Linked DNA regions of Homo sapiens. The protein of the gene in region 1 interacts with the protein of each later gene in a biochemical or structural test. Each region holds a gene or a part of one and is shown on either strand. Other genes may lie near its edges.

Region 1 (3,927 bases):
AGGCTTATCCCGAAGGAGGCAATCATAATACACACATAATTACAGAAGCCACACAGCTGTAGGCAAGTCTGTGGGAGAAGTACCTTTCACTACAGATTACAGTGTAAGAATGTCCCAAGGGAGACAATTTTCTTTTATGTGCTGTCTAGATTTAAACAATTACTCCATTAGAAAGCTTATCACCAATAAAAAAAAAAAAAAGTCCCTACTCATTCTCCTTCCTTCCTGCACTGCCTGAAGATATAACTCTATAAAGTATAACTGAATATAAATAGCACTGTTTATGAAGCCACAATGGCAAAAGAAACCACAAAAGTGAGGAACATCAAGAATTTGCTAACATTTATTGACGAGCCCAGGCAATTACTGCCAAGTATTCAAAGCTTAAATGATGGTACTAATTTGATTGAGAGTAGTTTTCAGCATCTTTAAAAACAAAAACAAAAACAATTCCCGTAGAACTAACCACTCTAGAACCCATGAGATTAATTGGTATAGAAATGAAAAAGGGAGCCTAAAGCCTTTACGATGTTTCCTGAACAGTTTAATTATAACTCAACCTCACCTAGCTTTTCTTTCCCTTTATAAATTAACATTTCCATCTCACTTGTCAATTCTTCTACTTATATCAACTAGAAAATAGAGAACTATTGCTTATAAACACCTAAACCTATTAAAAAACTAAACCTTTTTACACTTAGATTACAGAGAAGAAAATTATTTAGAAATTGGTTTTCAAGGAAATTGTATATCACTATATTTCTCTGATATACAATTATGGGAAAATATTTCCTCTTAGAATTCAAACATATTGCCAAAGCCATTTACAAGTCTTTCAGTATTTGGCAATGAAGAATAATGAAAAAAGTTGGATAGATGTCACACAGTAATATTAGTAACTGATTTGGCAGCTCCCCTCCCAACAACAAACACATTGAAATTACCATAACTTCTGAAAAGAAAACATTTTCATAAAATACCAAAAGTGGTGAGTATTTCATAATATTCCCCCAAATACAAGTAAGAATGAAGGTATTCACTTAACAGGCTATTGAATTTCCTTCGGACAGTTTAAAGATCGGGACAGGTAAGCCTGGGGCCTTCTTCATTCTAAGCAGTAGCTTTAACTTCTTTATCCATTACCCATGGTACTATAGTAATAAAATATATATATATATATATTTTACATCAGAATACACATAAACATATATACCTAACAAATATATATGCATATGTAACTAAGTTTTACCAAACAATACTTACTCAAATATATTTTCTGTTCTTTACAAATTCTTTCCTTTTCATTTTTTTCAACACCAGTCATTGTCATCTAACTTGATTTCATGTGAAGAGCAAAAACCCAGTCTGAAAAACACAGGTCTGAGGCAATCTTATACTGGAATGCCGGGACCAGGGCAGATCCCAACCCGGTGCTTGGGAGTCCTGCCTGTGTCTCAGGAGCCATCTAGAGTAAAGGCAAAGTACAGACAGACCCAGACCCCGCCCTGGGTAACCAAAGCTGCTCAGCAATTATCTTGGCATTTCACGTAAGACTTAACCTACAGGCAGGGGGCAAAAAAAGTTCTCAGTTAAAAAAATCAAGTTTTAAAATCACTGAGTTACATTACCTTTCCGGGTCCCCTTCCAGTGTATGAGTCTAGAAATAAGTATTCATTATAAACTATAAAATAAGCCACAAATTACTATAGAATCAAAACTGTATCATTAGATCACAAAAACTTTAATAGTCAAAGCTTTGTAATTTATAATGTTAGAATTTCTCAACATACTGTCTTGATTACAAGTTCTGATGGCCAGGCATGGTGGCTCACGCCTGTAATTCCAGCACTTTTGGAGGCCGAGGCGGGCAGATCACCTGAGGTCAGGAGCTCGAGACCAGCCTGGCCAACATGATGAAACCCCATCTCTACTAAAAATACAAAAAAATAGCCAGGCGTGGTGGCAGGTGCCTGTAATCCCAGCTACTTAGGAGTCTGAGGCAGGAGAATCGCTTGAACCTGGGAGGCGGAGGTTGCGGTGAGCCAAGATCGCGCTATTGCACTCCAGCCTGGGCAACAAGAGCAAAACTCCATCTCAAAAAAAAAAAAAAAAAAAAAGTCCTGACGGCACCTCAGCCTCCCCTCAAATTCCCTCCCCGTCCTGCAGAAGCAACCCTCCAAGACTTCTCCCTTACTAAAAGTACACTCTTCTTATAGTCTTATTAATAAAACAATGTTATAATTGCTAAATGTAACACATTACCACATAAACACACTAAGGCACGCCGATTACTAGGCTCCTTAGACAGTGGTCAATTTGAACAAATTGATGTTCCTAAACCAAAAACTCAGCAGCTTTTTTCATTCATAAAAACATGTATCTTCCCGCTGGAATTACCTCCAGCCAAAATATACCGAGTTGGGTGCATGGCATTGATGGAACACACAGAGACAAGGTATTCTCCACCAAACGAATGCACCCTCTTTCCTGTCTCATGGAAGATTTCTACCCGTCGTGGATGGGCCATGCTGCCAACTATGACACAGTCTTCTTGTTTAGGATCCCACATGGCTTGGAACCTGGTCAGCCATCGCCCAGTGAAAGTGTTGTGCCTAGTGAGGAAAACAATATATTTTTTAAATGAAGTAAGGTTAAATAAGGTAGCATTGGGCAGAGGGTAAAGACGGCATTGCTCCTAAATGCTAGTTTTCTCTGCCAAGTTTCTTCTCATTAAGTTACTGAGTTACCACCAACCTTACCTCATCCTTACAGGACTGAACCTCTGGACAGAGACGATATCCTCCTCATCTAAAAATCTCCCAAAATAAAACATATGGAGCCCTTTATAGTTCCCAAAAGCAAAAACAGAAGTACTGCCCTTTTAGTCTTTTTGCCTTAATATCACTAACAATCCTTTTTCATTAAAGTATGGACTACACATTTCCCACTGCCACTTAAATGACCCCATCATTAATGAAAATTCTTACCCCCTAGAATAGTCACCCTACATAAATTTTTTAAAAATATACATAATATGGCCAGGCACAGTGGCCCAAGCCTGTCATCCCAGCACTTTGGGAGGCCGAGGCAGGTGGAACACCTGAGGTCAGGAGTTCGAGACCAGCCTGTCCAACACGGCGAAACCCAGTCTACTAAAAACACAAAAATTGGCCAGGTACAGTGGCTCACACCTGTAATCCCAGCACTTTGGGAGGCCAAGAGGGTGGATCATTCAAGGTCAGGAGTTCGAGACAGCCTGGCCAACATGGTGAAACCCCGTCTCTACTAAAAATAGGAAAATTAGCTGGCCATGGTGGCGGGTGCCTGTAATCCCAGCTCCTAGGGAGGCTGAGGCCGGAGAATCACTTGAACCCAGGAGATGGAGGCTACAGTGAGCCAAGATTGCACCACTGCATTCCAGCCTGGGCAACAGAGTGAGACTCTGTCTCAAAAAAAATAAAAATAAAAATACAAAAAGTAGCCAGGCATGGTGGTGCTTGCCTGTAATCCCAGCTACTGGGGAGGCTGAGGCAGGAGAATTGCTTGAACCCAGGAGATGGAGGCTACAGTGAGCCGAGATTGCACCACTGCATTCCAGCCTGGGCAACAGAGTGAGATTCTGTCTCAAAAAAAAAAATAAAAATACAAAAATTAGCCAGGCATGGTGGTGCTTGCCTGTAATCCCAGCTACTGGGGAGGCTGAGGCAGAATTGCTTGAACCCGGGAGGTGGAGGTTGCAGCGAGCTGAGATCGCGCCACTGCACTCCAGCCCCCGTGTCAGAGGGAGACTCCATTTCAAAAAATTAAAATTAAAAATTAAAAAATAAAATAAATATACATAATACTGGCTGGGCACAGTGGCTCATGCCTATAATCCCAGCACTTTGCGGGGCTGAGGAAGGTGGATCATCTGAGGTCAGGAGTTCA
Region 2 (3,130 bases), on another chromosome or scaffold:
AGATGTTCAAATATTGTAAAACTTTGGTGCATTGTTATTTAATAGCTGTGATCAGTGATTTTCAAACCTCAAATATAGTATATTAACAAATTACATTTTCACTGTATATCATGGTATCTTAATGATGTATATAATTGCCTTCAATCCCCTTCTCACCCCACCCTCTACAGCTTCCCCCACAGCAATAGGGGCTTGATTATTTCAGTTGAGTAAAGCATGGTGCTAATGGACCAGGGTCACAGTTTCAAAACTTGAACAATCCAGTTAGCATCACAGAGAAAGAAATTCTTCTGCATTTGCTCATTGCACCAGTAACTCCAGCTAGTAATTTTGCTAGGTAGCTGCAGTTAGCCCTGCAAGGAAAGAAGAGGTCAGTTAGCACAAACCCTTTACCATGACTGGAAAACTCAGTATCACGTATTTAAACATTTTTTTTTCTTTTAGCCATGTAGAAACTCTAAATTAAGCCAATATTCTCATTTGAGAATGAGGATGTCTCAGCTGAGAAACGTTTTAAATTCTCTTTATTCATAATGTTCTTTGAAGGGTTTAAAACAAGATGTTGATAAATCTAAGCTGATGAGTTTGCTCAAAACAGGAAGTTGAAATTGTTGAGACAGGAATGGAAAATATAATTAATTGATACCTATGAGGATTTGGAGGCTTGGCATTTTAATTTGCAGATAATACCCTGGTAATTCTCATGAAAAATAGACTTGGATAACTTTTGATAAAAGACTAATTCCAAAATGGCCACTTTGTTCCTGTCTTTAATATCTAAATACTTACTGAGGTCCTCCATCTTCTATATTATGAATTTTCATTTATTAAGCAAATGTCATATTACCTTGAAATTCAGAAGAGAAGAAACATATACTGTGTCCAGAGTATAATGAACCTGCAGAGTTGTGCTTCTTACTGCTAATTCTGGGAGCTTTCACAGTACTGTCATCATTTGTAAATGGAAATTCTGCTTTTCTGTTTCTGCTCCTTCTGGAGCAGTGCTACTCTGTAATTTTCCTGAGGCTTATCACCTCAGTCATTTCTTTTTTAAATGTCTGTGACTGGCAGTGATTCTTTTTCTTAAAAATCTATTAAATTTGATGTCAAATTAGGGAGAAAGATAGTTACTCATCTTGGGCTCTTGTGCCAATAGCCCTTGTATGTATGTACTTAGAGTTTTCCAAGTATGTTCTAAGCACAGAAGTTTCTAAATGGGGCCAAAATTCAGACTTGAGTATGTTCTTTGAATACCTTAAGAAGTTACAATTAGCCGGGCATGGTGGCCCGTGCCTGTAGTCCCAGCTACTTGAGAGGCTGAGGCAGGAGAATCACTTCAACCCAGGAGGTGGAGGTTACAGTGAGCAGAGATCGTGCCACTGCACTCCAGCCTGGGTGACAAGAGAGACTTGTCTCCAAAAAAAAAGTTACACCTAGGTGTGAATTTTGGCACAAAGGAGTGACAAACTTATAGTTAAAAGCTGAATAACTTCAGTGTGGTATAAAACGTGGTTTTTAGGCTATGTTTGTGATTGCTGAAAAGAATTCTAGTTTACCTCAAAATCCTTCTCTTTCCCCAAATTAAGTGCCTGGCCAGCTGTCATAAATTACATATTCCTTTTGGTTTTTTTAAAGGTTACATGTTCAAGAGTGAAAATAAGATGTTCTGTCTGAAGGCTACCATGCCGGATCTGTAAATGAACCTGTTAAATGCTGTATTTGCTCCAACGGCTTACTATAGAATGTTACTTAATACAATATCATACTTATTACAATTTTTACTATAGGAGTGTAATAGGTAAAATTAATCTCTATTTTAGTGGGCCCATGTTTAGTCTTTCACCATCCTTTAAACTGCTGTGAATTTTTTTGTCATGACTTGAAAGCAAGGATAGAGAAACACTTTAGAGATATGTGGGGTTTTTTTACCATTCCAGAGCTTGTGAGCATAATCATATTTGCTTTATATTTATAGTCATGAACTCCTAAGTTGGCAGCTACAACCAAGAACCAAAAAATGGTGCGTTCTGCTTCTTGTAATTCATCTCTGCTAATAAATTATAAGAAGCAAGGAAAATTAGGGAAAATATTTTATTTGGATGGTTTCTATAAACAAGGGACTATAATTCTTGTACATTATTTTTCATCTTTGCTGTTTCTTTGAGCAGTCTAATGTGCCACACAATTATCTAAGGTATTTGTTTTCTATAAGAATTGTTTTAAAAGTATTCTTGTTACCAGAGTAGTTGTATTATATTTCAAAACGTAAGATGATTTTTAAAAGCCTGAGTACTGACCTAAGATGGAATTGTATGAACTCTGCTCTGGAGGGAGGGGAGGATGTCCGTGGAAGTTGTAAGACTTTTATTTTTTTGTGCCATCAAATATAGGTAAAAATAATTGTGCAATTCTGCTGTTTAAACAGGAACTATTGGCCTCCTTGGCCCTAAATGGAAGGGCCGATATTTTAAGTTGATTATTTTATTGTAAATTAATCCAACCTAGTTCTTTTTAATTTGGTTGAATGTTTTTTCTTGTTAAATGATGTTTAAAAAATAAAAACTGGAAGTTCTTGGCTTAGTCATAATTCTTATATTCACTGAAGTGCCTTTATAGAATGCTAATATTAATTTCAAACTTTTGGATGTGACATTTGGAAGTGTTGGAATATCTGAGTTCCTCATTTCATCATAACATCAAATATATCAAAGCCTGCTTTAAAGTATTACCTTGGGGATGATTCATAGCTATTTGTCAGATTTGCATACATTAAGATGCCATTGGAGCTCTTTTGTCTCGTTTTTGCATTACTGCACAATCTAGCCATCTTGGTATAGGTGGAGGAGCATTGATGCTAGGGGCTGGAGAACTTGAGGCCCGATATAATTTTACTACGCCGGCCCAGTTTCTTCAATTGCAAAATAGAAGAGTTGAATTAGGATATATCAGATTTCCCAACCTTAAGGAGACTTTAAAAAGAATAATATCAAACCTAGGCATTTTCAACTAACACTGGAATACTAATTTTGGAGACCTTGGTTTACTCTACCAAAGACATCAAAATTTTTTTTCACTTTTTTTTCTTGAAAAGGAGGCAGGGAAGGTAGGTCATTAACATGTGGCTGAAGTA

Evidence for each region.
Region 2: the proteins of WDR76 (region 1) and NRAS form a complex in vitro, tested with the Homo sapiens proteins (one study listed by BioGRID).

The regions. Positions count from the first base shown.
Region 1 is NC_000015.10:43,864,813-43,868,739, reverse strand, and holds the end of WDR76 (WD repeat-containing protein 76), read right to left. Parts: intron 2,613-3,927; coding exon 2,348-2,612; 3' UTR 328-2,347; downstream 1-327. UniProt on the Homo sapiens protein: Specifically binds 5-hydroxymethylcytosine (5hmC), suggesting that it acts as a specific reader of 5hmC.
Region 2 is NC_000001.11:114,703,926-114,707,055, reverse strand, and holds the end of NRAS (GTPase NRas), read left to right. Parts: 3' UTR 1-2,587; downstream 2,588-3,130. UniProt on the Homo sapiens protein: Ras proteins bind GDP/GTP and possess intrinsic GTPase activity.